6 separate regions of the Homo sapiens genome follow, and regions 2, 3, 4, 5 and 6 are each reported to be linked to region 1. The links are microRNA targets in miRTarBase. Many come from high-throughput screens and were not tested one by one. Region 1 holds a microRNA gene; each other region holds the end of a gene's coding sequence. Distances are from middle to middle.
The links. Region 1 holds the annotated microRNA hsa-miR-6504-3p (CAUUACAGCACAGCCAUUCU, at 1,973-1,992, opposite strand). A microRNA usually pairs through its seed, bases 2 to 8, with sites in the 3' UTR of a target mRNA and lowers its output. Matches are read on the target gene's strand: a 7mer-m8 pairs with bases 2 to 8, a 7mer-A1 pairs with bases 2 to 7 and ends in A, and an 8mer does both.

Region 1 (5,072 bases):
ACAGTCTTCCCTCCCTGCAATCCAGCCCTGGAACATGAAGCAATGCATCTGAGCTCCTCTGGATTCCCAGGACTTGGGTTGGGACATCCGTGAGCATTATTTCTCCATGGTAGCTGCCCTACTGATGAAGCAGGAGGAGGAAGGATGTGGCACGCAGGAGACCTCACCTTGAAACTAAGGGAAGCGCCAGAACTTGCCTCTAGGAGAGCAGGTGGAGGCTGATGGAGCCAAAAAGGTTGGGACAAGGCCGGACTGTAAACTGCTCGTTCCTTTGGCTTGTCTACTTTTGAAGGAGGACATACGCTGCTAGGCAATGTCTTGAGTCCCAGCACAGGCATCTCTAAGGGGCTTCCAAGCAAAGGGAAAGCTGACCAGGCTGCGTTCCAGCTGGGGGAAGGGTCACGCTTCTGTGCAGAGTCCCCATACTGTCCTGCTGGTGGCTGAGCCAAGAGAACTCAGCCCAGTGGGAACATAAGGCATGGCTGGAACCCCGAGGGTCACTCTGAGGAGAATCCATTCAGACCTGGGAAAGGTCCCCCAGCCCAACCCTGAGGGTCACTCAGAGGAGAATCCATTCAGACATGGGAGAGGTCCCCAGCCAGACCCCAAGTCCCCCGGAAGCCTGCGGGCAGCTGGTTCCAGGCTTCCGACTTCTGGTGTTAAATCTTTGGAATGCTGAAAGGGCCTGGTTCCAGGCAAACGCTGCCCAATTTCCTCTCCCAAACTTGCCAAGTTCTTTCTCATTGTTGCATTGTCTTGAGAGGTGAGAAAAACAGCCCAGGGTGCGCTGTGAGCGACCTTTTCCAAGCTCCCCTTCCCCGGCCCAGTTTCTTAGGGAAAAGGAGCTTCCTTTCTTACTGGAAGCTAGAGAGTGAGACCTTTCTGGTGCTTTCCAGACCGGAAAAGTCCTGCTTGCTACCTTCCAGTAAGAAAGGAACCCACCCCGTCCCTGCCCTGCTGCCAATGTTTGGGGTAAACAGTTGCCCCGCCTCCTGCAGGACTTTCCAGAACATTGGTGAGAAGAGCCGAGTCCCGGAACCCATCCCCGAAAGAAGCAGACACTCTTGGGAGGAGGGTCTCCCTGCTCTTATCTTGCCTGAAGCCTTGTTTGTGGAGCAGCGGCTCTGTCTAATTTTTGCTGATGGGCAGCCACTCAATTTTTAGGCAGAATCCCCCAGAAGATGATCTGCGCCGCGCTGCTCTTTAATGCCTGCTACCCCATCCCAGGGGCCAGTGACAGCACCTTCAGGACGTTTTCATGACACTGTCTATGTACTTACATGCTTGGCCTCCCCACAATGAAATGCTAGCAGAAAGGGCATCAATGGAGGAAATGGGATAAACAGGCCCTTTCTGCAACGAGGGATTCTAATAACATGGCAGTGAGGGAGCTCACGCTGAAAACACAAAGCATCCAAAACACACCAACTGGACCCACGCTGGAAGGCTGGGCGCCTCTGTCTGCCAACTCAACCTGCTGGTAGATTGCTCTGTCTCTGAGCTGGGGATGAGGGGCATGGGCCTGAATGTCCTCTCTGCCTTCCTTGAAGGATCAGGTCAGCTCCCCGAGGTCTGCAAGAGGCATTGATTCAAATTCTAACAAAGTAAGAGTTTTACAAAGAGCTCCTTAGAAGACAGAGAGAGCGGAGGAGGAGGAAGAGAAGAGGGGAGAGACACACAGAGAGGACTGGGGGACAGGCTCAGAGGTGGTGAGAGGCCTGGAGGAAGGACCTGCAAGAGAAGCCCAGAGTGAGCCACAGCAAGGACTAAAGAGAGAGAAAGAGGAGAGGCAGGAGGGGACAGAAGGGGAAGGAGGGGAGAGAGATGGAGAAAAGGCATGAGAGAGAGGAAAACAGACACACATGGATGCAAAGAACCTGAAAGAGACAGAGATGGAGAGAGATCAGGCAGGCTGGGGTAGGGAAGGGGCACTAGCCCTCTTTGGGCCCCGCCATTCCCCTTGTCTGTAGAGAGAATGGCTGTGCTGTAATGCAGCAGGGTGCAGACTGCATTACAGCACAGCCAGACTGCAAGATCGAAGAGCCCCCTGTGATCTGACGTGATTCGCCCCAGGAGGGGCTCAGGTGCCTGCAGTATGAGGTCAAAATGAAAAGGCCTCGAGGTCAGCACTGCTCCACAGAACTTCGTGTGTCAATGGAAATGTTCTTTATGTGCGCTGTCCAACACAGCAGCCTTTGGCCATGTGTGGCCCCTGGCCACTGGAGGTGTAGCTAACGGGACTGAGGAACTGTGTTATTAATTTGATGAGTAAATTAAATCCATCTGTGGGCTGCCATGCGTGGCTGCTGGTGGCTGTGCCGGGCGGCACCATTTAAGGCACTTTCACTCATCTGCTGACTAGGAGCACTAAGGTAATGCCGTTCAGATGGGCACCTGGCTGTTTCTTGGTCCCCTCTCCCACCCTGGAGCAGGGAAGATCTGTCCCCAGGGCCAAAGGGGTTGTTCTCTGTGACACCACGGCTCTGGGATCTAATACAGTATGTTGTATGTGAATCAAGACAAAGTACAGCCTCTCAAAGCAGAGGGTCCTGCCACCCGTCACAAAAGGCACGTGAATACAACCAGGACTGAAGAAAGCCCTGAGTACCACACCAGGGGCCAAGTGCACCCCGCCCCAGCCTCCCTAGAACCACACAGACTCGCTAGCCCTGTTTATAGAATGAGCCAGCTACATACCACCCATGCATCACGGTGGGCAGAGTGTGGGGGTGAGGATGAGAGGGAAGCAAGGGAGAAGCCGATCCAGGTCTACCTCCCCTGACGGAAATGGCAGCCAGGGAGAGAACCACAGCCGCCAGGGGCAGGGGCTGCACCCACCTGGGTTCCCCTTGGGGGAAGGGTTGGGAGGCCGTGTCTGCTGCTCCCTCATTAGCTCGGAGTCCGGCTCTGGATCTGAGGAGTTGCAAGCCGCCTCCTCCTCCTCCTTTTCCTCTGCTTCCTCCTCTCCTGCTCCTGCCTCTGACTGCGCTGTCCACGGGATCAGGGGGCAGTGAGCAAGTGGGATGCTGGAGCAGCTAGAGGCTCCCCGCCCGCTCGGCTCCTCAGCACCACGGCGGCAGCTCTGTCCTGAAGCCCTGCCAGACACGGCGGCCAGGCGAGTCATCACAGCTGGGCCCGCGGCCACAGCCGGGTTAAAGGGACATTCCAGGCACTGCTTCTCTGCTTTTCAGCCTCACTGCCCCTCCATCCCTGTGGCGAGTGATGCTCTGGCCTCCTTTGGAGGCCAGGGCTGCCCCTCCAGCCCCAGAAGGAATGAGGCCCCTTTGCTGGTGGAGCAGGAAAGTGGAGGCTCAGGGCCTCCTCTCCTCCAACTGGAATGTTTCAAGGGGCTCCCTCCTGCCTCTCTGTCATGCACAGATCTAGGCCCCTCTGCCCTGCCACCACACTGATTCCTCTAGTGTCCCTCTACCCCTTCAGAGCTTTCAGTGGCTGCCTATTGCCTTTGGAAGAGGGTCTGAGGCTTCTTCACTTGGCTGGCAAGGCCTGGGTGATCTGGCCATCGCCCAACAGATCTAGACATATCCACAGCCCCAAACTCCATCTCTCCATCTCCTCCAGCTGCAGCAAGTACCCAGGTCCCCCATATTCAGGCTTTGCACACACATCCCCTCTGCCCGGGGAGTGTGCCCCCACCCCACCATTCTGGCACACTTCTACTCATCCCTCTACACCCAGTTCAAATGCCCCCTGTCTGGGGAGCCTGCTTTGGCCCCCCAGGCCAAATAAGTTCCTCCTTCTCTGGGCTCCCAGTCCTCCACGGTTGCCTCTAATTTAGCCATTATTTCCGTAATCATTTGTTTATGGCTCTGTCTCCCCAGGGGCTGAGGGGCTCTTCACGCATGGGGCCTCCCCGAGCACAGGGGAGAGGCTGCCTCAAAGCTCTGTGACTACAGCAAAGTCATTGGGGTAGGACAATCTCTGGCTACCCTACCTCTCCGTTGGCCACTGAACCCTGTGATTGCCCGCCCCATCTCCCCCGCCGAGGGGGGCTGGCACTGACCACCCCCTTCATGGACTCTGTGCTGCAGCCATCGGATGGGCAAGAAGGAGCGAGTGAAGAGGCAGAGGAGCTGGCAGAAGTGTCTGGCAGGAGGGTGACACTGACCTCTATCATAAAGATGAGAGGAGAGAAAGAAAGAAGAGGAAGGCTTTGCTGGCTGTGGTGGGGAGGGGGGGAGGGACAGTGTGGGGGTGTGGGGACAGGGTTAAAAGAAAAGCGTAGAGGGCAGAGTGTGAGAGATTCACTAAGAAGAAAGCAGACTGGGGCAGGCGTGGTTTCCAGAGTCCTCTGAGAGATGACAGTAAGAAACAGGACATTTCTAACAATGCTAAGTTGTTACGCTCCGCTACTGAGCTCAGCATTCCTTGGAGCCCAGACTGGGTGACTCTCAGCCCAATGCTGTTACACAATCCAGTGGCTGCTAGATCTAAAATAGGTTTTTAGAAAGCATCTCTTTGGGCTAAGAGAAGGTTTCCCTGGAAAAACAAGTTAGGAATAAAATGATCCCAAAAGAAAAAGCAAGGCAGGTCTTCTTCCCACTGATAAGAGAGTAAATTTTCTCTAGATGAGGGGTTTCAGACTCGGGGTTCCTTCTGAAAATTGGCTGGCTCCCCTGACATGATGTAACATGTCTTATGTATGTGTGACCGTGGTCGTGGTTTTTGTCAGTCACTTCTCCATTCTTGGTGGACGCACCTCACCGCCTCTGTGTGGTCCTGGTGGGGCTACCAATCCGAGACCTGGGCCTTGCCTGAGGTCAAGGGTGGGCGGGTAATCCGGGGGAGTGAATTCCTGGGGGCTGAATGGGAACACGGCAGAGCCAATCAGGATCTTCCATGAGATTTTGTAAAAGGTACTGGAAAGAAAAAGGGCGCTCACTCTTAAGGATTACAGCCTCTAAGGATGTGGCTTTGGGCTGCAGGTGGGTCATCTTTCCTACCACATGGTGAGATTCTGCCAATGAAGCCAGCACACAGAAGCACAGCCAGGAGATGGAGAGAGAGATGCCCAATATTAATGATGTCATCTGACCCCCGGATCCAGCAATGCC
Region 2 (5,072 bases), not on the chromosome of region 1:
AAACGCCCAGGTGCCTCCCTCCACAGCTCATAGTCAGGGATGTCAGGCTTCTGGTGGGCCCTTGGTAAAGGGTCTGTGAATGAACAACTATGAATGCTGCTTGCGGCCAGTCCAATTGTCCTACCTACCAATCAGGAAGCCAAAAGCCCCATTGCAGAGCTCTGGCCCAGCAGACAGAAAAGCCGTTTTCTTCAACTACCACGTTACTCTTGTCTTCACTTAGGAGATCCAGTGAGCTGTGGGACATCCAAACCGGGAGATATTAGTGGACGAAAAGCCCTGAGGAGCGGGTGCTCTGGGTTGTGTTTTCCACCCTGCCGCAGATTCGGCCTGAGCTATGCATTCTTTCCCCACAGATGCTGAGCAGGGTGATTTTGCAGAGACCCCGGTGCCCCAGTTTGTTTGTGCTCACAGCCCAAATAATTTTAAGCAGCACTTAATGAGTGATCAGATGCAATGTCCTTTATTCAAATTTGGTTTATACATTTGATGATTATATGTGTTTGGGGACACGCACCAAAAAAATTCTCTCTTCTATTTTTCTGACAGGGTTGGAGCATGCAGCAAAAATATAATGATGAATTAAGTTTAAGTTTCAATGGAAAATTCTGTAAAATTGCAAAATGTCATCATTGCCATACGGGGGGAGCTAGGGAAAGGATACTGCACCCTTAGAGGCAGAAATTCACAAATGTACACACCCCCGAAGGTGGATTAATAGTTCTTCCAAAGTCTTCTGGGGTCCCTCACCCTAACACATAAATATGCAGTCTTGAATGAACAATTAGGAGATGGTGGCCCCTTTAATTTAATGAATTTCTTTAGGAGGATGAAGCCACAGATTCTTTATGAAAGCCATAAAATAAAAGGGAAGGAGAAATGGAAGATTACTTGAGACCCATTAGAAAAATAAAAAGCTTTCTTGGTGGGGGGACGGGGGCAGTACATGTCAGTAATCCCTTGAGCAGCAGGACTGAAGGTTTAGGGAGGAGTCTGGTGTCCCAAACTGCTTATAACACAGACAAGACCAACTTCCACATGTTCAGGGAGCAAGCAGCAACTCCCAACAAGAACATAATTTACTCTCATCTGCTGATTCTGACCCAGGGATGTTCCTCTAGCCCACTTCAGATAAAGCAGGCAAGTAGCTAGGACTGAAACATGACATAATCCGAGGTATGAGGTGTATCTGAGGCACAATCGCCACTCCTTTTCAAATATGCACAATGCCGGTCATATCAAGCCATCTCTCCCTCCTCTCTGCTCATTCCTGAGTCAGCCATGAGGTGAGTTGTGATTTCCTAATGGTGTCCTGAACCAAAATGCAGGACACCCAGGACACCATTTAGACTTGCCAGGCCCACGGAGATGACAAAAAACTCAGCTCAGCATGGAATAACGTGAGCTGCGCACTTCATCGACAGCCTGCGTGTCAGAGGCGGGGTTACATCCCCACGGCCTGGGGCAAGGCCCACTCCCTAAGCCCTCAATTATGAGCAGGTTCTGTGCTATCAAGAAGACACACAGCCAACAGCCTCATTTAGGCTCTTGAGCCTTTGGAGGACAAGTCAGCTGTATCCCAACCCTCCCTAGCCTCCTGGATCTCTGCTTCTCTCTGGGCAGGAAATTGAATACTCTCCCAGCAAGATCACACAGACACATCCATGGAAGAAGCTGAGATGAAACATGACTCTCATAAACAGGAACTTTATTAAACTACATGTTACATAAAAGAACATATAAATGGACCATTAAATACATTCAGTTTATTTTAAACAAATTTACATAGATACTTATTTACATTTCTCCATTGTATTCTTAAATTATTTTTCCAAGCTTACTACCGATAAAAGGTAATACAATGATCATCTGCTCACACAGATGCATAGAGAAGTTGTCCACAGGGCTAAGTAAAGCACCACTTCCCAGGAAACACAGCTTATTAGATCTTCCAGCAACAACTCATGCTGAAGGTGCTCTCTTCTGAGCAGCCCTTGAGGTGAGGCTTTTGCTTTAGAGATGCTGGGGGTTGGTTCTGAGGAGCTGACCCAGGGCAGAGATGGGTCCTTGCTGATTGACCTGACTTGGACTCACAGAGGTGGAAAGACCTGTGGAGACCATCATCGAGGCCATGGCCCCACATCTGTGATATGGGAAACAGGCTTGGGAAGAGGTGGTGACTTCCCAAAGTCACCCAGCATCCATGATAGAGGAAGGGCCTGGGAGCTTGGTACCCAGGGTTCCTCCAAGAGGTCCCGATCCCTCTGCTATCCACAAATCCACAAACTTAGAATCACTTGCATCCATTTTCCACCACCATGGACCTTATGCTTTGAACTGTTTTGTCTACCTGATTAAATATATAACTTCTTAGGCTTCTTGAGATGGTGAAAAGCAGCTCAGGATTCCCATAAGCAACTTTGTGGAGCCCTGGAAATACCTACTCAGGGCTGTTTTTACAAGAGGTTTTGTGGTCAGGTGCTTTACTATTTCAGCCATAACGTTTACCTTTAAAACTCAGCTGACTTATGGAAGCTCAGCATTTCCAATTCGCTTAGATGACAGGCAACAGTCTGCAGAAGGGAGGTTCTAACGTCAACCACGTGGATTCCCCACAAACGCATCATATTTGCCTAAATCCATCTATCTACCAATGTCAGATCTAAAATGAGGTTTCACTAATAAGTGACCTAAAATTAAAAAAAACACAAAAAAGTTTCTTAAAAAAAAAATTCCAAGAATTTCCCCGTTTCCCAATTAGTCTCAGAGGAGTCGTGAAATGGGCATTGGGTAGAAAAAGTCCCATGTTTTCAACTGTTTCTTTTGAATAAAGCCTGATTCCCCCACTCTGCCCCCGAACTTTTCCCGATGATATACATTCTTCTGAAAGCAATTTCATGCTTTTAGTCTGCTTTAAAAAACCTGACTTGGTTCTTCTCAGTATTTAAAAACCACTGTACCAAGGAAGAGATGTCCACGTTAAAAACTATTATTAAGAGACAGAGACAAGGAGAGAGAGACTCTCTCCAGGCCATGTTAGAAAAGAAGGAAGTGCTGGGAGCACACAAAGAGAGAAGAAAGGCTGGGAGACAGAATGGTTTGCACCTCCCTGTAACCAGAGTGAACACAGGTCATAGCAGCCTTCACTCAGTTTTATAACAGACACACGAATGGAGGAACATGGGATTGGAAAGACGCACACTGTCAAACAGCCCTGATGCCTTTCCACTAAAATATGGCACTTCTAGATTCCAGAGAAATCCAGCATTCTACCAGGGGCTGCCACCCATCTGCAGGGAAGCCTGCCCTGCAACCATGAGGCCCTCAAGGCTCATACTCCACTGCTCACAATGCGCGCCCTGAATACATGGAAGCATCTGATTTCTGTCTGAGTCCAACTTTCCCTCCTGTTCCTAGACAGACTCACACCCAGAGTCATGCACGGAGAAGTGGGCAAGCCAGACAATCTTCAGGGAGACACAGCCCATCACAGGATACCCAAGGCTTATGGGGAAGTCCAGTTGCCAGCAACGGACCCTGTGTGGGCAGGTGAAACTCTGAAGCCAGAGAACACAGGAAGATAAAAATATCTTCATACTGAGGATATACTGGCCAAGTGTGGTGGCTCACACCTGTAATCCCAGCACTTTGGGAGGCTGAGGTGGGAGGATCACTTGAGCCCAGGAGCTCGAGATCAGCCTGAGCAACATAGTGAGATCCCATCTCTACAAAAGATAAATTAAAAAAAAACAATTAACCAGGCGTGGTGGTGCACGCCTGTAGTCCCAGCTCTGAGGGAGGCTGAGGTGGGAGGATCACTTGGGTCTGGGAGGTCAAAGCTGCAGTGAGCTATGATTGTGCCACTGCAGTCCAGTCTGGGAGACAAGAGCACGACCCTGTCGCAAAAAAATACATATGTATTTTTTTCCTGGGAGGCATTTCACTCTGCAAAAGGAACCAAAACTAGAACATTTCATTTTTGTTTTGTTTTGTTTGAGACAAGGTCTCACTCTGTCATCCAGGCTGGAGTGCAGTGGTGGGGTCCTGGGCTCAAGTGACCTTCCCATCTCAGCGTTCAGAGTGGCTGGGGCCACAGGCATGTGCCACCACACTCGGCTAAATTTTGTATTTCTGATAGAGACGGGGTTTCTCCATGTTGCCTAGGCTGGTCTCGAACTCCTAGGCTCAAGCAATCCACTCATCTTAGCCTCCCAAAGTGCTGGATTACAGGCATGAACCACTGCACCTAGCTAATTTTTATATTAAAAAGAAAGTCTTTGATATATAAAAACTGGCCTGAAAAAAACTTTTTTGACTTGTTTCATAAGAATGTCACTTTACACTCCTACTAAATCTTTCTCGGGATCCGGGCTTTGGGGGAGGGTGGGGTGCATGGGGGAGGTGCGGCCGTCACAGTAGTGAACGTGCATCCATCTGGACGCTGGACTGCAGCAGGGCTCAGCACAGCAGGCTGCAGTCCACAGGCCTCCTGGACTGTGCCATCCCAACAGCGTCACTAGCAGTGGCACCAGTGGCTGCTTTATCTGTAACAAAGACATGCTGCCTCTTTCCCCATCCTCGTCCCAGAAGTCAGTCTTCACCGTCTGAATCCCAGGAGGCAGGAGAGGACAGGCACCCATCACTTCCGTAAGGGATTGAGGATTCTCCCCAGCGTGGTCCGACTGGAGTCCTTCCGACGGAGGGAGGCCCTTTCCCCAGCCCCTCTGGCCTTCAGAGGGGCCTCCGTGTTGGCACTGGGACCCTCCGCAGACTCTGGGCGCTTCTTGGGGGCCCGGGCACTGCTGGCTCGCCTCAAAGTGCTGCTGTCCTTGGGAGCGGCATCCTCGGGGTCCCCTTTCACCCTCAGCTGCCGCTGCGACACTGTCCGAGTGATGCCGGGGGCTTTGGCCACGGGAGGAAGATCTGTTCTCATGCTTCGAGAGGAGGAGGCCACTGTGTTCCGGGCAAAGCTCGGGACACGGGGTAGTTCGTGGGGGACGCTGGGCACTGACGGGGTCTTGGGCTCTTCTTTGGGACTCTCAGGGCCCTCGGAGTGGGCGCGGCAGGTCTTA
Region 3 (5,072 bases), not on the chromosome of region 1:
AAACCTAGGCATTTTGGCACCTAAGGGTTCATCCCTCACTACATATGAATGATGCGCCATTTTGGTTTTTGCATCAGTTTGGTTTACATGGTCTAGTGCTGGAGAGCCTCATCATTTCTTGGCATACTGAAACACAAAGCCACGGATTAGGAGAGAGGAGAGTCCAATGACTCCTGGTCCAGGAGGCTACCTGTTTTTCACAGGGCATCATTCTCTAGATTCAGGAGAGTAAACCCATTTTATCTCACTTGCCAGCAGTTGGTAGTGGCTCCTAGCAGAGTGTGATAAAGCTTCTGAGGCTCAGGAAGAATGAGTGGCATGATTGATTAGTCATGTCTGCAATAAATTAGGGGAAGGGAAGGGTGTACGTAGATGGGATAGGAGTATCTGCATTTGAAGCAATGTATTTCATCAATTCAAATGAGCACATCCTTCTGCCCATTTATGCATCTTTGAAATTAGGATGCATCTTATAATCACTACACCAGATTGTCTTTTCCAAAACTAGCCACAGTATTTCAAGTCTCACATGCTTTTTTTTTTTTTTTTTTTTTTTTTTTTCTGTTTTTTGAGATGGGGGTCTCACTCTGTCGCACAGGCTGGAGTCCAGTGGCACAATCTCAGCTCACTGCACACTCCGCCTCCCAGGTTCAAGCAATTCTCCCACCTCAGCCTCCCAAGTAACTGGGATTACAGGGGTGTATGACCACGCCCGGATAATTTTTGTATTTTTAGTAGAGACAGGGTTTCACCATGTTGGCCAGGCTGGTCTCAAACTCCTGACCTCAGGTGATCCACCTGCCTTGGCCTCCCAAAGTGCTGGGATTACAGGCGTGAGCCACCACGCCCAGCTCACATGCTCTTTCAGAACCTAGCCAAGACCCCATCAAAAAGTAGAATTTACTTCATCTCCACAGGGAATTTTAAACATTTAGCTGGGTGTGGCAGCATACACCTGTAGTCCTAGCTATTCTGGTAGCTGAGGTGGGAGGATTCTTTAAGCCCAGGAGGTTGAGGCTGCAGTGAGCAATGATGGTGCCACTGCACTCCAGCCTGGGCAACAGAGCAACAGAGTAAGACCTTGTCTCACACACACACACACACAAAGAAAAAGGAAGTAGAATGTATGTACTCTGCCCTTGCACTTGGGATAGGAGGTTGTGATTGCCTCAACTAATAGTGTGGCAAAGTGATTGCTAAGTAAATTATGAAGATAGGTCATTAAAAAAACAAGATAGCTTCTGCCTGGTCTTCTCTTGGGATGCTCACCCTTGGAACCTGGCCACCATGCTCAGGAACCCTATGCCATGTGGCGAGCTCAGCCCTTGCTTCTCAGATCTGGTTGAGGTCCCAGCTAACAGCCAGCACCAACTTGCAAGCAATATGAGTGAGTGCCATCTTGGAAGCAGGTCCACCAGCCTTTAGTAGAGCTGCCTGCCTCATGCTATATGGAGCATAGATGAGCCTTCCTTGCTGAACCCTGCCCAAATCATAGACTCCTAAGCAAAATAAATGATAGTTAGTGTTTAAGATATGAAGGTCTGCAGTGGTTTGTTATACAGCAATAGGGAACTGAAATAATCGTGGTCAGCCAGGCTGCAGTCTTGACAGTTGTCACTGCCTGCATGTATGTATACACAAAAACATGTTGAAGAAGTGTCAGTGAATTGAAAGAAAACCCTGAAGGCAATAGTGGAACATGTTTTAAAGAAATGCTACATCACAAACACTTTTATGCACAAAGGACAATATTATAAGGAAAACCATGAACACTGATGGCTCTGAATTCAAAAAGTGATTTAGAAGAATTAAACTCTGAATATGAAGGAATCTAAGGAATAGCATACCAAATTTATTTTGTATAAATTTTTCTTTAATTTTTTTATTTCCATAAGTTTGGGGGGAACAGGTGGTATTTGGTTACATGAGTAGGTTCTTTAGTGGTGATCTGTGAGATTTTGGTGCGCCCATCACCCGAGCAGTAAACACTGAACCTGATTTGTAGTCTTTGATCCCTCACACCCTTCCCATCTTTCCCCGAGTCCCCAAAGCCCAGTGTGTCATTCTCATGCCTCTGCATCCTCATAGCTTAGCTCCCACTTATGAGAACATACAATGTTTGGTTTTCCATTCCTGAGTTACCTTACCTAGAATAATAGTCTCCTGTTTATGTGGTTCTTTTTAAGGATGCACACAAGTGATACACAATGGAAAAAAAACTATGTGTAAATAAAATTAAAAGAACACTCAATTAATATAAAGCAAATAGTGATAAAAAGAAAGGATTTTATCACAGTTTCATCATACCAGCCTAGCATCAGTGATATCAATGACATCTTAGATTTAATGAAATACAGGTGTTTATTGTTGTTGATTCTATTATATTACCAAATACAAGTGTCCTAGGAGAGATTTCCACAAATTTTCCATTTTTTTCTTTGCAAATTAAAAAAAAGTAGATATAAACTTTTTTAAAAGTTCAATTTAATTTTTACTTTCATAATTATATCCCATTGTTCTATAAAACATTGGGGCTGGGTGCGGTGACTCACGTCTGTAATCCCAACACTTTGGGAGGCTGAGGCGGGCGGATCACCTGAGGTCAGGAGTTCAAGACCAACCTGGCCAACATGGTGAAACCCTATCTCTACTAAAAATACAAAAATTAGCAGGACATGGTAGTGCATGCCTGTAATCCCAGCTACTCGGGAGACTGAGGCAGAAGCATTGCTTGAACCCGGGAGGCAGAGGTTGCAGGTGAGCCGAGATCATGACACTGCACTCCCGCCTGGGTGACAGAACAAGAAAAAAAAAAAATTTGCCTCAAAAAAAAAAAAAAAAAAAATTTGGAAACAACAACAAAAAAAAAGCTTAATTTTCTCAACGTAATATTCCAAATAAGTGACTCTCCATGATCACCTGAAATCACATAAATTTTGCATATTATGAATGTTTTAGTTGGCTCCGTTTTCTTGAATGGCATAGCATCAGTGATATTGATGACATCTTAGATTTAATAAAATACAGGTATTTATTGTTGTTGACTCTATTACCAAATACAAGTGTTCTAAGAGAGACTTCTAAAAATTTTCTAAACTAAAAAAAAAAAAACCTTAATTTTCTTAACTTAATATTCCAAATAAGTGACTCTCCATGATCCCCTGAAATCACATATACTTTACATATTGTGAATGTTTTAGGTGGCTGCGTTCTCTTCAATGGAGGTGGGGGAGGGTAGGCTTAATGAAAATGTGGTAAAGTCAATAATTCCAAAAGGCTTAGCTAAAGATATGTTGAACATTAAAGAAACAAAGTGAATTAAAACTACTAATTAAGCATTTATAAAGCAAAATGATGTGACAATGTTAACTTTATTACTACTGTTAAGGTAACAGAATCAAAGCTTCTGTAGATCTCAAAAACAGAAGTTTATTCATAAAATGCATTTTTAAAGTATGACCAAAAATAAGACTACAAAACCCCTACAATCTTGTACATTTCACCATCACTTACCACAGTCAAAAACCAAAAGTCTCACCAATTCAGTTCCTGTATTTTAAGTAAAAAAGAGCTCTTTAAAATCAAAGCATTTTGTTTTATGAATTAAATTGCAGAAAATAGCTACCCAAATCTAGACCAACCGTGCCGTTTTGAGAGAGAGAGATATATATATATATATTTGTTTTTTTTTTTTTTGAGACGGAGTCTCACTCTGTCGCCAGGGCTGGAGTGCAGTGGCGCAATCTCAGCTCACTGCAATCTCCACCTCCTGGGTTCAAGTGATTCTCCTGCCTCAGCCTCCCAAGTAGCTGTGATTACAGGCGCCCGCCACTAAGCCCAGCTAATTTTTTGTATTTTTAGTAGAGACGGGTTTTGACCATGTTGGCCAGGCTGGTCTCGAATTCCTGACCTCGTGATTCACCCGCCTCAGCCTCCCAAAGTGCTGGAATTACAGGCGTGAGCTACCACGCCTGGCCCACCATTTTGATATTTTATACAATAATATTATGTCCAGAAAATTACTCACACTGAAATCTCTCAAAATGTATTTATGAAGGTTAATTCAGTTTTTCCAAGGCAAACTCTTTTAAACCAAATGAAATGATTCCCACCACAACATTATAGACACTAAAACATAACACAAGCATAAAGATAAAATATGGAACTTCAGGGACACAGAACAAATCTGAAATATGTTTAATTATAGACAACTATTGACTTAGAAATGGAAGGGAGAGAAAAGAACTGGCCCTGGAGATAGTTTACTTGGTGCTTCTGATACCCACGTGCAGCAGCAAGTCAGCAAACAAGCCCCGAGAGAGGCTGGAGGCTGGCCCAGAGGCTTGTGGCTGGGGTCTTTTATCATCAGCCAAATCCAGCTTTGTTCAATGAGGGTCAGAGGACTCCAGAACCTATCTTAAATTGTGTGAGTGTTCCTCTGGAAGGTTTCAAGTCCAAAGTCTTTTTTTTTTTTTTTTTTTTTGAGACAGTCTTGCTCAGTTGCCCAGGCTGGAGTGCAGTGGCACAATCTCGGCTCACTGCAACCTCCGCCTCCCGGGTTCACGCCATTCTCCTGCCTCAGCCTCCCAAGTAGCTAGGACTACAGATGCCCGCCATGACACCCAGCAAATTTTTTTTTATATTTTTAGTAGAGACGGGGTTTCACCATGTTAGCCAGGATGGTCTCGATCTCCTGACCTTCTGATCCACCCGCCTCGGCCTCCCAAAGTGCTGGGATTACAGGAGTGAGCCACCGTGCCCAGCCTCAAGTCCAAAGTCTTGAAGTCAAATTTTATTGAGCTTTGTAACGATCAGTACTCTCACCGTTTGGTCAAATGAACTACAGACGCAGAGACCCCTTTTATCTGGACTCCAATCCAAACTTGAAATGGGCTGGGTGGACAACGTAACATTCTGCAGAAGGCTTACAGAACCTGCGACTCCCATTTCTATTCCCTCAGAATCTTTCTTTGACCGCTGAATAGGGTATTCACTGAAAACAAGATCAAAATGGTAAGAGCGCATAAATCTTAGCTTTCACCATTTTATTTTTATACATACACTTCAATGAC
Region 4 (5,072 bases), not on the chromosome of region 1:
TGGCACACACCTGTAGCCCCAGCTACTCAGGAGGCTGAGGTGGAAGAATCACCTGAGCCCAAGGAGGTTGAGGCTGCTGTGAGCTGAGATCACGCCATAGCACTCCAGCCTGGGTAACAGAGCAAGATCCTGTCTCAAAACAAACAAATGAACAAAAAACAAAAAGACAGCTGATAGTTATTGCTCCTTTGAGCCGAAACCTGGGCGCGCCAGGCCACCAGGGCAGCCAGCTGTTGGTGTTTTCCACTGTGGGCTTGTCACAGGGGGAGCTAAAAATCTGTGTGGTTTGTCTTTGTGTGTTTGTGTGAAGGTTCAAGAAGACGTGGAAGCTGCGGGCTCTGAAGGAAGGCAAGACAAGCATGCATCCGCCGTACTCTTTGGGGCAGCTGGTCCCGGAGAGGCCTCGACCCACCCCAGTGCTTGTTCCTCTCATCTCCCCACCGGTGTCCCCCAGCAGCCTGGGGTCTGACAATACCTCGAGCCACAACCGACCAGATGCCAGGGACCCACGGAGCCCTTATGACATCAGCAATACAGACTACTTCTTCCCCAGATAGCTGGCTGGGTGGCACCAGCAGCCTGGACCCTGTGGATGATAAAACACAAACGGGCTCAGCAAAAGATGCTTCTCACTGCCATGCCAGCTTATCTCAGGGGTGTGCGGCCTTTGGCTTCACGGAAGAGCCTTGCGGAAGGTTCTACGCCAGGGGAAAATCAGCCTGCTCCAGCTGTTCAGCTGGTTGAGGTTTCAAACCTCCCTTTCCAAATGCCCAGCTTAAAGGGGCTAGAGTGAACTTGGGCCACTGTGAAGAGAACCATATCAAGACTCTTTGGACACTCACACGGACACTCAAAAGCTGGGCAGGTTGGTGGGGGCCTCGGTGTGGAGAAGCGGCTGGCAGCCCACCCCTCAACACCTCTGCACAAGCTGCACCCTCAGGCAGGTGGGATGGATTTCCAGCCAAAGCCTCCTCCAGCCGCCATGCTCCTGGCCCACTGCATCGTTTCATCTTCCAACTCAAACTCTTAAAACCCAAGTGCCTTAGCAAATTCTGTTTTTCTAGGCCTGGGGACGGCTTTTACTTAAACCGCCAAGGCTGGGGGAAGAAGCTCTCTCCTCCCTTTCTTCCCTACAGTTGAAAAACAGCTGAGGGTGAGTGGGTGAATAATACAGTATCTCAGGGCCTGGTCGTTTTCAACAGAATTATAATTAGTTCCTCATTAGCATTTTGCTAAATGTGAATGATGATCCTAGGCATTTGCTGAATACAGAGGCAACTGCATTGGCTTTGGGTTGCAGGACCTCAGGTGAGAAGCAGAGGAAGGAGAGGAGAGGGGCACAGGGTCTCTACCATCCCCTGTAGAGTGGGAGCTGAGTGGGGGATCACAGCCTCTGAAAACCAATGTTCTCTCTTCTCCACCTCCCACAAAGGAGAGCTAGCAGCAGGGAGGGCTTCTGCCATTTCTGAGATCAAAACGGTTTTACTGCAGCTTTGTTTGTTGTCAGCTGAACCTGGGTAACTAGGGAAGATAATATTAAGGAAGACAATGTGAAAAGAAAAATGAGCCTGGCAAGAATGTGTTTAAACTTGGTTTTTAAAAAACTGCTGACTGTTTTCTCTTGAGAGGGTGGAATATCCAATATTCGCTGTGTCAGCATAGAAGTAACTTACTTAGGTGTGGGGGAAGCACCATAACTTTGTTTAGCCCAAAACCAAGTCAAGTGAAAAAGGAGGAAGAGAAAAAATATTTTCCTGCCAGGCATGGTGGCCCACGCACTTCGGGAGGTCGAGGCAGGAGGATCACTTGAGTCCAGAAGTTTGAGATCAGCCTGGGCAATGTGATAAAACCCCATCTCTACAAAAAGCATAAAAATTAGCCAAGTGTGGTAGAGTGTGCCTGAAGTCCCAGATACTTGGGGGGCTGAGGTGGGAGGATCTCTTGAGCCTGGGAGGTCAAGGCTGCAGTGAGCCGAGATTGCACCACTGCACTCCAGCCTGGGTGACAGAGCAAGTGAGACCCTGTCTCAAAAAAAGAAAAAGAAAAAGAAAAAATATTTTCCCTATTAGAGAAGAGATTGTGGTTTCATTCTGTATTTTGTTTTTGTCTTAAAAAGTGGAAAAATAGCCTGCCTCTTCTCTACTCTAGGGAAAAACCAGCGTGTGACTACTCCCCCAGGTGGTTATGGAGAGGGTGTCCGGTCCCTGTCCCAGTGCCGAGAAGGAAGCCTCCCACGACTGCCCGGCAGGGTCCTAGAAATTCCCCACCCTGAAAGCCCTGAGCTTTCTGCTATCAAAGAGGTTTTAAAAAAATCCCATTTAAAAAAAATCCCTTACCTCGGTGCCTTCCTCTTTTTATTTAGTTCCTTGAGTTGATTCAGCTCTGCAAGAATTGAAGCAGGACTAAATGTCTAGTTGTAACACCATGATTAACCACTTCAGCTGACTTTTCTGTCCGAGCTTTGAAAATTCAGTGGTGTTAGTGGTTACCCAGTTAGCTCTCAAGTTATCAGGGTATTCCAGAGTGGGGATATGATTTAAATCAGCCGTGTAACCATGGACCCAATATTTACCAGACCACAAAACTTTTCTAATACTCTACCCTCTTAGAAAAACCACCACCATCACCAGACAGGTGCGAAAGGATGAAAGTGACCATGTTTTGTTTACGGTTTTCCAGGTTTAAGCTGTTACTGTCTTCAGTAAGCCGTGATTTTCATTGCTGGGCTTGTCTGTAGATTTTAGACCCTATTGCTGCTTGAGGCAACTCATCTTAGGTTGGCAAAAAGGCAGGATGGCCGGGCGCGGTGGCTCACGCCTGTAATCCTAGCACTTTGGGAGGCCAAGGTGGGAGGATTGCTTGAGCTCAGGAGTTTGAGACCAACCTGGGTAACATAGTGAGACACCATCTCTATTATGAACAATAACAGTTAAGAAAAAAAAAGGCAGGCAGGCGGTTATGGTGGTTCCCTCCCATCCCACCACATAAAGTTTCTGAGACTTGAGAACAGCAAAATGCTGTTAAAGGGAAATATTAAGAATGAGAATCTGCAGTAAGGGTGATTCTGTGCCCACAGTTCTTCAATTCTTTATACCGTTTTACCCACATGTGGTGTTACCAAAGCCGGGCAGAACCATGCTAGCGGAAGATGTGAAATCCAGATAGCTCATTATTGCCAAGAGCTAGGCAGCTTTGATCTCCAAATTGTTATTGCTTTCATTTTTATTGTAATGGAATTGCTTTGTTTTGTTTTTTTGTTTTTGTATTGAAGAGGGTTGTTTTCCCTTTATTTTTCATAAGCTAATGTAAATGAAGAAAAAATGTCTTCTCTGGGCTGTAGGCCTGGCTCAGCGTACACAGGTATACATCCTAAGCTCTCTATGTTCTCTAATCTGTGGTGACTGAACATGTGTCTCAATGCACGGGGCATTTCTACCTGTGTTTCTGCAGCACCCCCACTGCCTTGAGTCCCCAGCAGTGCTGTTATTTGCCTAACACCTGTAGCCATCTGCCACGCAGCCAGACGTGAAACGCTGAGACAGAGACCATTTAGGTTAAATACGACAGCTTATCCTGCTGGGTGGGGAAAGTAAAAAATATGCTGGTTCAAGGCCTAAAGTAAAATGATCAATAATGTTTGTAGCATTAATGAAATATTTTCAAGAAATGTGTCCAGGGGTAGCACTGGCTATGTTGACGAGGCCTTTGGTAACTCAGAGAGCTCTTGGCCCTGATGGGGACTTGCCCTTACGCTTTCTTTATCAGGCTCTGAGTTCACACGGAGCCTCTGGCACTTCCCTGCTGTCTTGGGAGAAAGGAAACTGGTTGCCGCGGCAGGTTGTGGAATCTGTTGCTGGAACCAGGCTGGAAGCCCACCTGGTAGTGAACAGGGCCCAGTGGGGCAGGCTGGGCATGTTGTGGTCTATGGGTTTGTTTCCTGGAGAATGTTCAGGAATGTCTTCCCAGCTGCTTTGGTGCTGAGCTCTATTATCTCACAGCACGTCCAGAAGGCTAACCCAGGTGGGGAGGATGCTGACACCAGCTCCAGGTGGAGTTGGTGGTCTTAATTTGGAGATGCAGGGGCAACCTGTGACCCTTTGAGGCAAGAGCCCTGCACCCAGCTGTCCCGTGCAGCCGTGGGCAGGGGCTGCACACGGAGGGGCAGGCGGGCCAGTTCAGGGTCCGTGCCAGGCCCTCCTCAGTGCCCTGTGAAGGCCTCCTGTCCTCCGTGCGGCTGGGCACCAGCACCAGGGAGTTTCTATGGCAACCTTAGTGATTATTAAGGAACACTGTCAGTTTTATGAACATATGCTCAAATGAAATTCTACTTTAGGAGGAAAGGATTGGAACAGCATGTCACAAGGCTGTTAATTAACAGAGAGACCTTATTGGATGGAGATCACATCTGTTAAATAGAATACCTCAACTCTACGTTGTTTTCTTGGAGATAAATAATAGTTTCAAGTTTTTGTTTGTTTGTTTTACCTAATTACCTGAAAGCAAATACCAAAGGCTGATGTCTGTATATGGGGCAAAGGGTCAGTATATTTTTCAGTGTTTTTTTTTCTACCAGCTATTTTGCATTTAAAGTGAACATTGTGTTTGGAATAAATACTCTTAAAAAATACCCTTGAAATGTAATTATTGCTTTGGGCATCTGGGTCATCTAAAAAAAAAAGGCTTGCCTGATTCATGAGGAGAAAGGAGTGAGGAAGGGGGGATAATTAAGTAGAACCATTTTTGGGGGGGTATCCCCTTAATGCAGGATTAAAGGACCGCTCAAAAGTAGGTAAGTTCAAGGAAGAAGCAGCAATTTCTCAGAAGGCTTTAATTATGACAGTATTTCCCACACGAGTCCTGGGATTTCTGGAAGGGGTGTGTGGGATTTTGCCACGCTTACATCACATTACCAGGTGGTGGACAGGTGGGGAAGGAAAAGGAAGGGCCATTATTTGTCAGAAGACTGTTTATTGGACCTGGGAGGGGGTGTAACACTATCACAAAGGCCACCCTGAACTCTTGATCATCAGATAGACCAAATCCATCCCCTACTGAAAAGGATCTTAGGTAGG
Region 5 (5,072 bases), 6.1 Mb from region 1:
AGGCCGACCCCGGCCTGCGCGTGGTGCGCGAGGTGTGCCGTAGCCACGTACGCATCGCCGAGGCCGCCACACTCAAGCCGCCACCCTTTCTGCGCGGCCGCTACCGCCTGGTGCGCTTCGAGGACCTGGCGCGGGAGCCGCTGGCAGAAATCCGTGCGCTCTACGCCTTCACTGGGCTCAGTCTCACGCCACAGCTCGAGGCCTGGATCCATAACATCACCCACGGATCTGGACCTGGTGCGCGCCGCGAAGCCTTCAAGACTTCGTCCAGGAATGCGCTCAACGTCTCCCAGGCCTGGCGCCATGCGCTGCCCTTTGCCAAGATCCGCCGCGTGCAGGAACTGTGCGCTGGTGCGCTGCAGCTGCTGGGCTACCGGCCTGTGTACTCTGAGGACGAGCAGCGCAACCTCGCCCTTGATCTGGTGCTGCCACGAGGCCTGAACGGCTTCACTTGGGCATCATCCACCGCCTCGCACCCCCGAAATTAGTGGAGGCCACAGTTGTAGCAGGCGCTAGGCCCGGGAGGAGAGTGCATGGTGCAGAGGGGGCTGGGGCGCACGGAGAAGCAGGTCCCTATATTGACCAAGGAGTTTGTGGTACGACCCCTCCCCCTCCCCAAGTAGGCAAGGACTGCACGTTTCTTTCTCTCTTGATTCTTGGTTTTCCTTTGAGTCCTCTGGAGCTGCCTTCTCATCAGGTGCACTCTTCATGGAAAGCAACTCTTGCCCCTCCTCCTCTGGGCACAGGGTGTGCGTTCAGATGACTTGGCTCCTACTCAAGGGCTTTCTTCCCCTTTAACTCTCTCCTTCTGGTGACACATCCTGCAGCAGCTGAGGGGGTGCCCTGGCACTGGCTGGGAGTGGAGAGGCACTGTGGTGAAATGGCTCCAGAGGTCTGTACATCACATACATATGCACACAGGCACACATGGCAAAACTCGGAAGTGAAAGGACTTGTCTGAAATCACATGGTGAGAAGGAGGATGAAGGGAGGAGAGAGCTTTTGCTCTGGGTCTCCAGTGGATAGGAGAGGACCTGCCTCCTGGGTGAGAAGGGTCAGATTTTCCTATTTTAATTGCTTTAGGGAAGAGCAAGCAGAGTCATGACCAGGGACACAGCTGAGAGATAGAGGAGGCTGTGAATGCTGAGACCAGAGTTTATCATGCTGGACAAGCCTGGAAGGAGGCAATAAGTGGGAAAGGTAGGAGGAGAGAAGGCTGGGGAGGGCTGGGCAGCAAGCCAGGCACAGTGAGTGGCAGAGCAAGAGGGGGAAAGCAGGATCAGTGCCTGGAAGGCAGGTGTGCCCGTCAGCGGGGAGTGGAACTCATCAGGCTTGCCAAGAGGTTGGAAGGGAAATGGCTCTGGGCTGGAACTGTCTTCCCTTGGTCCTTCTGGTCCAGGCCTTGGAGGAAAGCAGAGGATGATCCCTGCCTGTGAGCCACACCTCCTAGCTCTGGGGGCAAAGGGGCTTAGTAAAGGAATGCTGGATGTGTAGAGGGTTTAGTCCCGAGCTCAGGAAATGAGAGCCTATAAGTGCCCAGTACATGTTTAAAAGAAGAGCTCATGGAACCTCTGGAAAGGACAGGGAAGTTGAGTTAGCCACATAAATGAACCCAAGTCACATTGGAACACAGAGCTGGTCTGGGAACTGTGTTGGCTGCCAACAGAACTTCTGACCCTGTTACCTGTGAAATGAGGCAGTTTCCCTCACGTTGCCATCAGCTACCAGGAGCGATGCTGGTGGTCACTAGCTTCTGATCCTCATCCTGGGTGTGGCCACAGATTGGGGGAACCTGGATTGTGGAGTCACATCCTCCCTGCAAAGCAAGCAGGGCAAGGGAGATCTGGCATTTTCTGCTTTACGTGGAGGGAGAACAGGCACATTAGCCTTGAAGCTGAAGCTCATTTTAGGTTCCTTCCAGGTTTAGAAGCTTCAACCAAATGAAACTTGAATCTGTCCCTCGTGACAATTATAGGAGGAAGGTATTTAAAACCCCAGATTTATGAATGTGTACTACATGGCTTAGAGAATGTCTTTGTTCTTGTTCAGGTGGTTATAACAAAATACCTTAAGAGTGGGTAACTTGGCTGGATGCAGTGGCTCATGCCTGTAATCCCAGCACTGTGGGAGGCCGAGGGGGATGAATCACCTGAGGTCAGGCATTCAAGAACAGCCTGGCCAACATGGCGAAGCCCCTCCTCTACTAAAAATACAAAATTAGCGAGGCATGGTCGCACATACCTGTAATCCCAGCTCCTCGGGAAGCTGAGGCAGGAGAATCGCTTGAACCCAGGAGGCGGAGGTTGCAGTGAGCCAAGATCACGCCATTGCACTCCAGCCTGGGTGACAGAGCAAGACTCCATCTCAAAAAAAAAAAAAAGACTGGGTAACTTATAAACAAATGTTCTTCTCACAAGTCTGGAGACTGGGAAGTCCAAGATCAAGCCACCAGTGCTGTCTGATGAGGGCCCACTTTTTCAAAGACAGTGCCTTCTAGCTGTGTCCTCTTATCGTAGAAGATGGGAGACAGCTCTCCAGGGCCATTTTTTTTTTTTTTTTTTTTTTTTTGAGATGGAGTCTGGCTCTGTCGCCCAGGCTGGAGTGCAGTGGCACAATCTCGGCTCACTGCAACCTCTGCCTCTCTCTGCCTCCTGAGTTCAAGCAATTCTCCTGCCTCAGCCTCCTGAGGAGCTGGGACTACAGGGATGCACCACCATGCCCAGCTAATTTTTGTATTTTTGTAGACACTGGGTTTCACCATATTGGCCAGGTTGGTCTCAAACTCCTGACCTCAAGTGATCTGCCCACCTCAGCCTCCCAAAGTGCTGAGATTACAGGCATGAGCCACTGTACCCAGTCTCCAGGGCCTTTTAAAGAATGTCACTAATCCCATTCTTGAGGTCTCCACCTTCATTATCTAATCACCTCCCAAAGGCTCCACATCCCAACACCATCATATTGTGGGTTAAGATTTCAACCACAAGCCAGGCGTGGTGGCTCATGCCTGTAATCCCAGCATTTTGGAAGGCTGAGGCAGGTGGATCACTTGAGGTCAGGAGTTTGAGACCAGCCTGGCCAACATGGTGAAACCCCATCTCTACTAAAAATAAAAAAAATTAGCCGGGTGTGGTGGTGCACACCTGTAATTCCAGCTACTCAGGAGGCTGAGGCAGGAGAATCCCTTGAATCCAGGAGGCGGACAGTGCAGTGAGCCGAGATAATGCCACTGCACTCCAGCCTGGATGACAGAGCAAGACTCCATCTCATGCCCAGCCAGCATGCCCAACAAGCTTCATTTGCCCCTGTTTAGGTCACAAATTTTATTGATGGCTGCAATTAATGGCCTCTTGGTATCCAAGTCCTTTGTTGTATGACCCATCCATTCTCCCCTGACTCCCAAGGTGTCAGGACATGCTTGACTGGCTCCTGAATTTGCTCTCTGCGCATGGGCAGTACAGTCAAGCCTCACAGTGAACCCAGGTCAGCTTTCAGGACAAAGAAAGTGGCCTGGCTGACTAGGCACAGTAAAGCCAGGGCTGGGTAGGTACATACTTGTGCTGATCACGTATGTCTTATATCTCTGTGAGAGTGCAGTCCCAACAGGAAGGTTTAATCACTGGGGACTGCCCAATGCTGTGACAGGGCACAGAGCTCTGGGTTGCTGTGGGGGTGACTGCATTGACCACTGTTAGTGGTTTGCTGTGTTGACACTCTGTGCTGTGTGACCATGGCTCCTGCCATCAAGAAGTAGAGTCTGTTTCTCCACCTCTGAATCCAGGCTGGTCCTGTGACTTGCTTTGTCCTGTAGACAAGTGTAGTGCAACTTCCTGTGAGCCAGTTTGAAGCATAGGCCTTGGAAGCAAAACTTTACCTCCACCTGTCTTAGGTTTTCAGCTGGGGCTCTGCTGTGATTTGATTGTGTCTCCCAAAGTTGGAACCTTGATCCCCAGTGTTGTGAGGTGAGGCTTGATGGAAAGTAAATTACGCCGTGCGGGTTATGCCCTTGTGAATGGGTAGAGAACATTATTTCTGGGCGCAGGCATGGTAGCTCATGTCTGTAATCCCAGCATTTTGGGAGGTTGAGGTGTGCGGATTACTTGAGGTCAGGAGTTTGAGACCAGCCTGGCCAACAAGGTAAAACACCATTTCTAGTTAAAATACAAAAATTAGCCAGGTGTGGTGGCACATGCCTGTAAGGCCAGCTACTTGGGAGGCTGAGACAGGAGAATCGCTTGAACCCAGGAGGCAGAGATTGCAGTGAGCTGAGATCGCACCACTGTACTCCAGCCTGGGCAACAAAGCGAGAGTCTGTCTTAAAAAAAACCACCATTATTTCAGGAGTGAGTTGGTTATCCTGAGAGTGGTGCCTTTTAAATGAAGGAGTTCATTCTTTGTCTTTCTCTCGCCCTCACTTTGCCCTTCTGCCATATGATGCCTTCCATCATGCTAGGACACAGCAAGAAGGCTCTCGCTAGATGCTGGCTCCTTGATCTTGGGCTTCCCAGCCTCCAGAACTGTAAGCCAATACACTTCTATTTATTATATATGACCCTTGCTGGGTTCAGTGGCTCACGCCTGTAATCCCAATACTTTGCAAGGCTGAGGCAGGAGGATCACTTGAGACCAGGCACTCAAGACCAGCCTGGGCAACATAGTGAGACCCCATCTCTACAAAGTTAAAAAAAAATTAGCAGGGCATGGTGTCGTGCACCTGTAGTCCTAGCTACTTGGGAGGCTGAGTTGGGAGGACTGCTTGACCCTGGGAGGTTGAGGCTACATTGAACCATGATCATGCCAGTGCACTCCAGCCTGAGTGACAGAGCAAGACACCTATCTCTAAATAAATGACCCCATCTGTGGTATTGTTATAGCAAAACAAAACAGATTAAGAGAGACTTTTTAATGAAAAGACAGATTCACAAAGAAAAACAATGTTTTTGTTTCTGTTTTTTTGAGGCAGAGTCTTGCTCTTGTCCCCCAGGCTGGAGTGCAGTGGCGCCATCTTGGCTCACTGCAACCTCCGCCTCCCAGTTTCAAGCGATTCTCCTGCCTCAGCCTCCCGAGTAGCTGGG
Region 6 (5,072 bases), not on the chromosome of region 1:
TCACGCTGAACGTCGGGGGGAAGCTCTATACAACCTCACTGGCGACCCTGACCAGCTTCCCTGACTCCATGCTAGGCGCCATGTTCAGCGGGAAGATGCCCACCAAGAGGGACAGCCAGGGCAACTGCTTCATTGACCGTGACGGCAAAGTGTTCCGCTATATCCTCAACTTCCTGCGGACCTCCCACCTTGACCTGCCTGAGGACTTCCAGGAGATGGGGCTGCTCCGCAGGGAGGCCGACTTCTACCAGGTGCAGCCCCTGATTGAGGCCCTGCAGGAGAAGGAAGTGGAGCTCTCCAAGGCCGAGAAGAATGCCATGCTCAACATCACACTGAACCAGCGTGTGCAGACGGTCCACTTCACTGTGCGCGAGGCACCCCAGATCTACAGCCTCTCCTCTTCCAGCATGGAGGTCTTCAACGCCAACATCTTCAGCACCTCCTGCCTCTTCCTCAAGCTCCTTGGCTCTAAGCTCTTCTACTGCTCCAATGGCAATCTCTCCTCCATCACCAGCCACTTGCAGGACCCCAACCACCTGACTCTGGACTGGGTGGCCAATGTGGAGGGCCTGCCAGAGGAGGAGTACACCAAGCAGAACCTCAAGAGGCTCTGGGTGGTGCCCGCCAACAAGCAGATCAACAGCTTCCAGGTCTTCGTGGAAGAGGTACTGAAAATCGCTCTGAGCGATGGCTTCTGCATCGATTCTTCTCACCCACATGCTCTGGATTTTATGAACAATAAGATTATTCGATTAATACGGTACAGGTAAAAGGACCCCAACAACACTGGAGATGGGGAGTCCCAGGAAGCTCATGTCAGCCAGGTCTTGGAGGGCATCTCGCCAGTGGTGCGAGGCAGGGGACTATACTAATCTGTATTAATTGTGTAGCAGGACTTGATTCCCCCCATGATGAAGTCCACCTTTTGGAATCCAGTGTCCTCTGAACAGAACCACCTTTTTTCTTGCCATTTTGAGCTGCAGACAGGCGGTTTATTATGACAAGTGAAGAGTCAGCTGATGTGTACTAAAGGAGGCCATAGGAGGATTTTCCAGCCAGGACAAAAGAGCAGCAGTTTTCTCCTGGGCTCCATCTCTCTGTACCGCTAGCCAGTGCCGCATTTATCCATCTGTAAGAAGGCCCTGGTGGAGAGGATGGGATGAGAACAAGAGGCTACCTCCAGTTAACCAGGACATAAAGTCCCCAGCGGTTCCTGTCACACCTGCTCCTCCCTCCCCAGGGTGCATCCATGATCGTGGATGTTTGCCCAGGGGTGACCATGTTTGGCTGGCTTGGAATGCTGTGCATTCTCAGAGCTCTGTTAGTGTCCCCTCTTGGGGGTCAGAGATGAGGTGTGGCAGGGTCTAGAGGAATGAGTGTCCAGGCAGAGTTCAGAAGGTAGGAATGTCCCTCTTGATAGGGCTGAATCAAGGGATTCCTGGCTTTAGAAAGGGTCTGCTATCTTTGCAAAAATGTGCAAGTATCTGTAGCCAGTGTAATGAAATCACTTCCAAATCCAGCCTGTTACCTGACTTTTGTCATTGTTTTCCCAAAAATTTGAGGTATCATTGAAACAGGTCATTTTAAACAAATCTATTACGGATTCTCAGGGTTGGAAATAATTCGATGATTGCTTAGTCCTCCCCCACCCCTAGAACACCCCAGCACATCTGAAGATGAGCGCCTCTCCCTGGGTACCTGCAAGTGATCACCTTGGCCTGCTTGCATACCTTGGCTGATAGGAAGCGCGCCATCCCCAAGGCAGCTCCTGCTGTGGTTGGACAGTGCTGACTGTTAGACAGTTCTTCCCTATATTGAGCCAAAATCTGTCCTGCCACTTGCTGGATCTTGGTTGCAGACCTTCCCATTCACCCAGTTATATATCTTTGCTTTCAAAATAGTCACCTTGAGAGACCAGACATTTTTCTGAAAACATCATTACTCAGAATTCAGATTCCCCTCTGGGATCTGTCTTCAGAATCAAAGTTAGCTCTTTTCTATCCCCTGTAAGTCAGTCCCCTTTTGTTGTAGCTTCACCTCGTTTGTGACCCCCACTTCACCCACCTTCCCCACCATCTGTGGCTCCATATACCTTTCGACCATTTTCTGCTGGAAGAGGAAGATTCACGGCCCCTGAGGAGATCCAGAGGAAAGAGACGGTCTCCAAGGGTGCTGTGCAGCAAGGAGCCCAGGAGTGGTATGAACCGTAACAGTGCCCTTAGAGTAAATGTGCGGCCCCTAAGACCCTGCCCTCAGGAAGGCGGCCTTCCCCTGCAGTCCTGTGTCCCACCCCTGGGTCTCTGTAGGGTGCCATCCAGGGCAAGCAACCCAAGCACTGCTTCCCACCGGGTGATGAGCCATGCAGGCCTCCAAACTGCACGTCATGATTCATCCCTAAAGTGAGTTTGGCCTTGAGAGTCCCCAGGGTCCTCCCCCACTGGGCAGGGGTCCTCAAAGCCAAGGAAGCCTGGTGACACAGGCACCCATGGGAGGTGGGCCCAGAAAGGGGCTTCCCATAGATAGGCCCTGTGAGTAGGGAGCTTGTACACTGGGCCATGGGCAGCGCCAGTTCCCTTGAGCAGTAAAGGCCCTTTTCCCCCTACGGTGGGACCCAGGAGTCTCTCTGACAGCTTTTCTGCCAGGCACAGTGGCTCATGCCTGTAATCCCAACACTCTGGGAGGCCGAGGCGGGAAGATCACTTGAGGTCAGGAGTTCAAGACCAGCCTGGCCAACATGGTGAAACGTCGTCTCTGCTAAAAATACAAAAATTAGCTGGGTGTGGTGACAGGCGCCTATAACCCCAGCTATTTGGGAGGCTGAGGCAGTAGAATCGCTTGAACCCAGATAGCAGAGGTTGCAGTGAGCTGAGAGTGTGCCATTGCAGAGAGACTCCATCCCAAAAAAAGACAGCTGTCCCAGGCCAAGGGTACTTGGGAGAGCCCCTCATGGAGAACCTAGTTTAGACCAAGTAGCAGAAGCTGTGGTCATAACAAAACAATTTGAGGAAGAAATCTTACAAATCACCACTGCCCTTTCTCCTTTTCCATAAAACTGTCCATCTTTTCGGTGCTCCCTAATCCAAGCAGCTTGACTTTAGAGAAGTTGCAGAAGCAGTGAAGCCACTAACATGCTGTGTGACTTTATGCAAGTCACTCACCTCACTGAGCCACCTCCATTTCTTCATCTGTGAAATAGGCATAACAGTAATACATAACCCTACCTACCTCACAGGGCTGTTGTGAGGATCAAATGAAATAATGTAACGTGAGAATACAGTATAAATGATAAAGGATTGTTATTCTTTTGTGTCTGCTTGTAACGGGGAAAAACACTGGTCTTGAGTCACAGTGACTTGGGTTTGAATCCAGAGCTCCAAGCCTCTGTAACCTTGGACAAGTCATTGAACTTCTCTGATTTGTTTGCTCATCAGGTAACAACCCCTTCCTCCCGGGGTTATGCAACTTAAACGAGTTGGTGTCTGTGAAAATCCTGAGCTGGGCCTGGCACCCAAGAGCTCAGTGCTCTTGCAGGAGGTAGTCATGGTGGACTCTGGTGGGGGACTAGGAGTCCCAGGAGAGTGGAGTTTAACAAGCCCTTACAGAGCATTTGCTGCGTGGGCCCTGAGGATGTGAACAGCCACGAGTAAGCTAAGTTCAGCCTGGAGAAAGTTTAGAGCTTCACACAACGTGCTTTGGGAACTCAGGGAAAGGGCTCAGTTCTCAGAAGGAGCCTTGTGGATGGCCAAGGTGGGCCTCTGAGGGTAGGTCAGGCTTGACAGAATAAGCAAGAGAGTGCCGTGGGCACAGGGAACAGCAAGAGCAGAGCTGGCAACCAGGCAGGAAGGGCAAGCAAGGGAGGGTATGCGTTCACACCACAGCTGCACAAGGGGAAGGGGGGCACGCAGTGCATCTCGTTGCCTGCGTCCAGGTTAGGTGAACTCAGCCTTCTGCTTGGCAAAAGCATGAGAAAGACGGAGAACAAACGTTCAGCAGTGATGGCAGCACCATCGACAGACGGGTGAGTCTGAGTGCGAACTGTGAGCAGGGATGTGCTGCTTGTGAGCCCTTCATTGCCCTGGGTGAGACCTTGTGGTGATCTCACCTGGACCCAGTTTAGCCTTTTATCCCGCCAAGGGCTCCATCCCAGCTGAAGGAGCAACGCCGGGAACACAACACTCGTCAGCTCTCAGTTCCTGCCCTAGGTGTGGTCCCCTGCATGCAGAGGGACAGAATGGGTGCTTGAGGGAACCCTAAGCACCCACCTTGGTGTGACTCCTTCATGAGGCCCACCACCAAACAGGGACCCTGCATGCTTGAAGGCCAGCAGCAGGCACCACTCTGACCTCATGCCCTCAGCACCTCCAAAAGCCCTCCACCCTCTTAAGAAGGGCCTAGCCTCATGACCCTGGTCTGCCTTTGGGCCAGATCTCCCTGTGCAGGGGTGGCCAAGGTCCCCACTTGCCCACACCTCAGAATTTGCAGCCTAGGACGCAGCCACTCTTTTGTAAACTGCACCCTAAATCACACAGCATTTGTGTAACCACCCATTCACCCCAAACTTCCAGCTTCCTTTTACAAATTACTCTTAAAACAGTCTGACTTTGGGAGGCCGAGGTGCGCGGATCACGAGGTCAAGAGATCAAGACCATCCTAGCAAACATGGTGAAACCCCGTCTCTACTAAAAATACAAAAATTAGGCATGGTGGCACATGCCTGTAGTCCCAGCAACTTGGGAGGCTGAGATAGGAGAATAGCTTGAACCTGGGAGGCGGAGGTTGCCGTGAGCCCAGATTGCACCACTGCACTTCAGCCTGGCAACAGAGTGAGACTCCGTCTCAAAAAAACAAACAACAACAACAACAAAATAGTCATCAGGCTAGGTGTAGTCGCTCAGACCTGTAATCCCAGCATTTTGGGAGGCCAGGGTAGGCGGATCACTTTAGGTCAGGAGTTCGAGACCAGCCTGATGAACATAGTGAAACCCTGTCTCTACTAAAAATACAAAAATAAGCCAGGCATAGGGGTGCGTGCCTGTAATCCCAGCTACTCGGGAGGCTGAGGTACAAGAATT

Region 2: miRTarBase lists FHDC1 as a target of hsa-miR-6504-3p. Seed matches in the 3' UTR shown: 7mer-m8 at 4,224-4,230.
Region 3: miRTarBase lists DNAAF10 as a target of hsa-miR-6504-3p. Seed matches in the 3' UTR shown: 7mer-m8 at 4,737-4,743, 7mer-m8 at 3,949-3,955 and 7mer-m8 at 3,815-3,821.
Region 4: miRTarBase lists IL6R as a target of hsa-miR-6504-3p. Seed matches in the 3' UTR shown: 7mer-m8 at 2,818-2,824.
Region 5: miRTarBase lists CHST6 as a target of hsa-miR-6504-3p. Seed matches in the 3' UTR shown: 7mer-m8 at 2,108-2,114, 7mer-m8 at 2,242-2,248, 7mer-m8 at 3,005-3,011, 7mer-m8 at 3,141-3,147, 7mer-m8 at 4,056-4,062 and 7mer-m8 at 4,576-4,582.
Region 6: miRTarBase lists KCTD21 as a target of hsa-miR-6504-3p. Seed matches in the 3' UTR shown: 7mer-m8 at 2,659-2,665.

What each region holds. Positions count from the first base shown.
Region 1 is chr16:81,608,307-81,613,378 of GRCh38, reverse strand. MIR6504 (microRNA 6504) reads right to left here and starts at 2,031; the gene lies at 1,971-2,031. The region is part of intron 2 of CMIP (c-Maf inducing protein); the gene reads right to left. RefSeq lists an enhancer at 4,588-4,817.
Region 2 is chr4:152,976,291-152,981,362 of GRCh38, reverse strand. FHDC1 (FH2 domain containing 1) reads right to left here. Exons shown (of 12, transcript NM_001371116.1): 12 at 1,692-5,072. The coding sequence ends at 4,640. Among named protein-coding and RNA genes, the nearest start is that of FHDC1, 43 kb to the right of the region's middle.
Region 3 is chr2:68,126,453-68,131,524 of GRCh38, forward strand. It overlaps DNAAF10 (dynein axonemal assembly factor 10), which reads right to left. Exons shown (of 8, transcript NM_138458.4): 8 at 3,353-4,993. The coding sequence ends at 4,786. Among named protein-coding and RNA genes, the nearest start is that of DNAAF10, 29 kb to the right of the region's middle.
Region 4 is chr1:154,464,824-154,469,895 of GRCh38, forward strand. It overlaps IL6R (interleukin 6 receptor), which reads left to right. Exons shown (of 10, transcript NM_000565.4): 10 at 311-4,627. The coding sequence ends at 557. It also overlaps a transcript of SHE not described here. Among named protein-coding and RNA genes, the nearest start is that of TDRD10, 35 kb to the right of the region's middle. RefSeq lists an enhancer at 142-643.
Region 5 is chr16:75,474,057-75,479,128 of GRCh38, reverse strand. CHST6 (carbohydrate sulfotransferase 6) reads left to right here. Exons shown (of 3, transcript NM_021615.5): 3 at 1-5,072. The coding sequence ends at 488. Among named protein-coding and RNA genes, the nearest start is that of TMEM170A, 12 kb to the right of the region's middle.
Region 6 is chr11:78,169,470-78,174,541 of GRCh38, reverse strand. It overlaps KCTD21 (potassium channel tetramerization domain containing 21), which reads left to right. Exons shown (of 2, transcript NM_001029859.3): 2 at 1-3,293. The coding sequence ends at 770. It overlaps KCTD21-AS1 (KCTD21 antisense RNA 1), which reads right to left. Exons shown (of 3, transcript NR_102281.1): 3 at 565-722. Among named protein-coding and RNA genes, the nearest start is that of KCTD21, 17 kb to the left of the region's middle. RefSeq lists an enhancer at 202-703.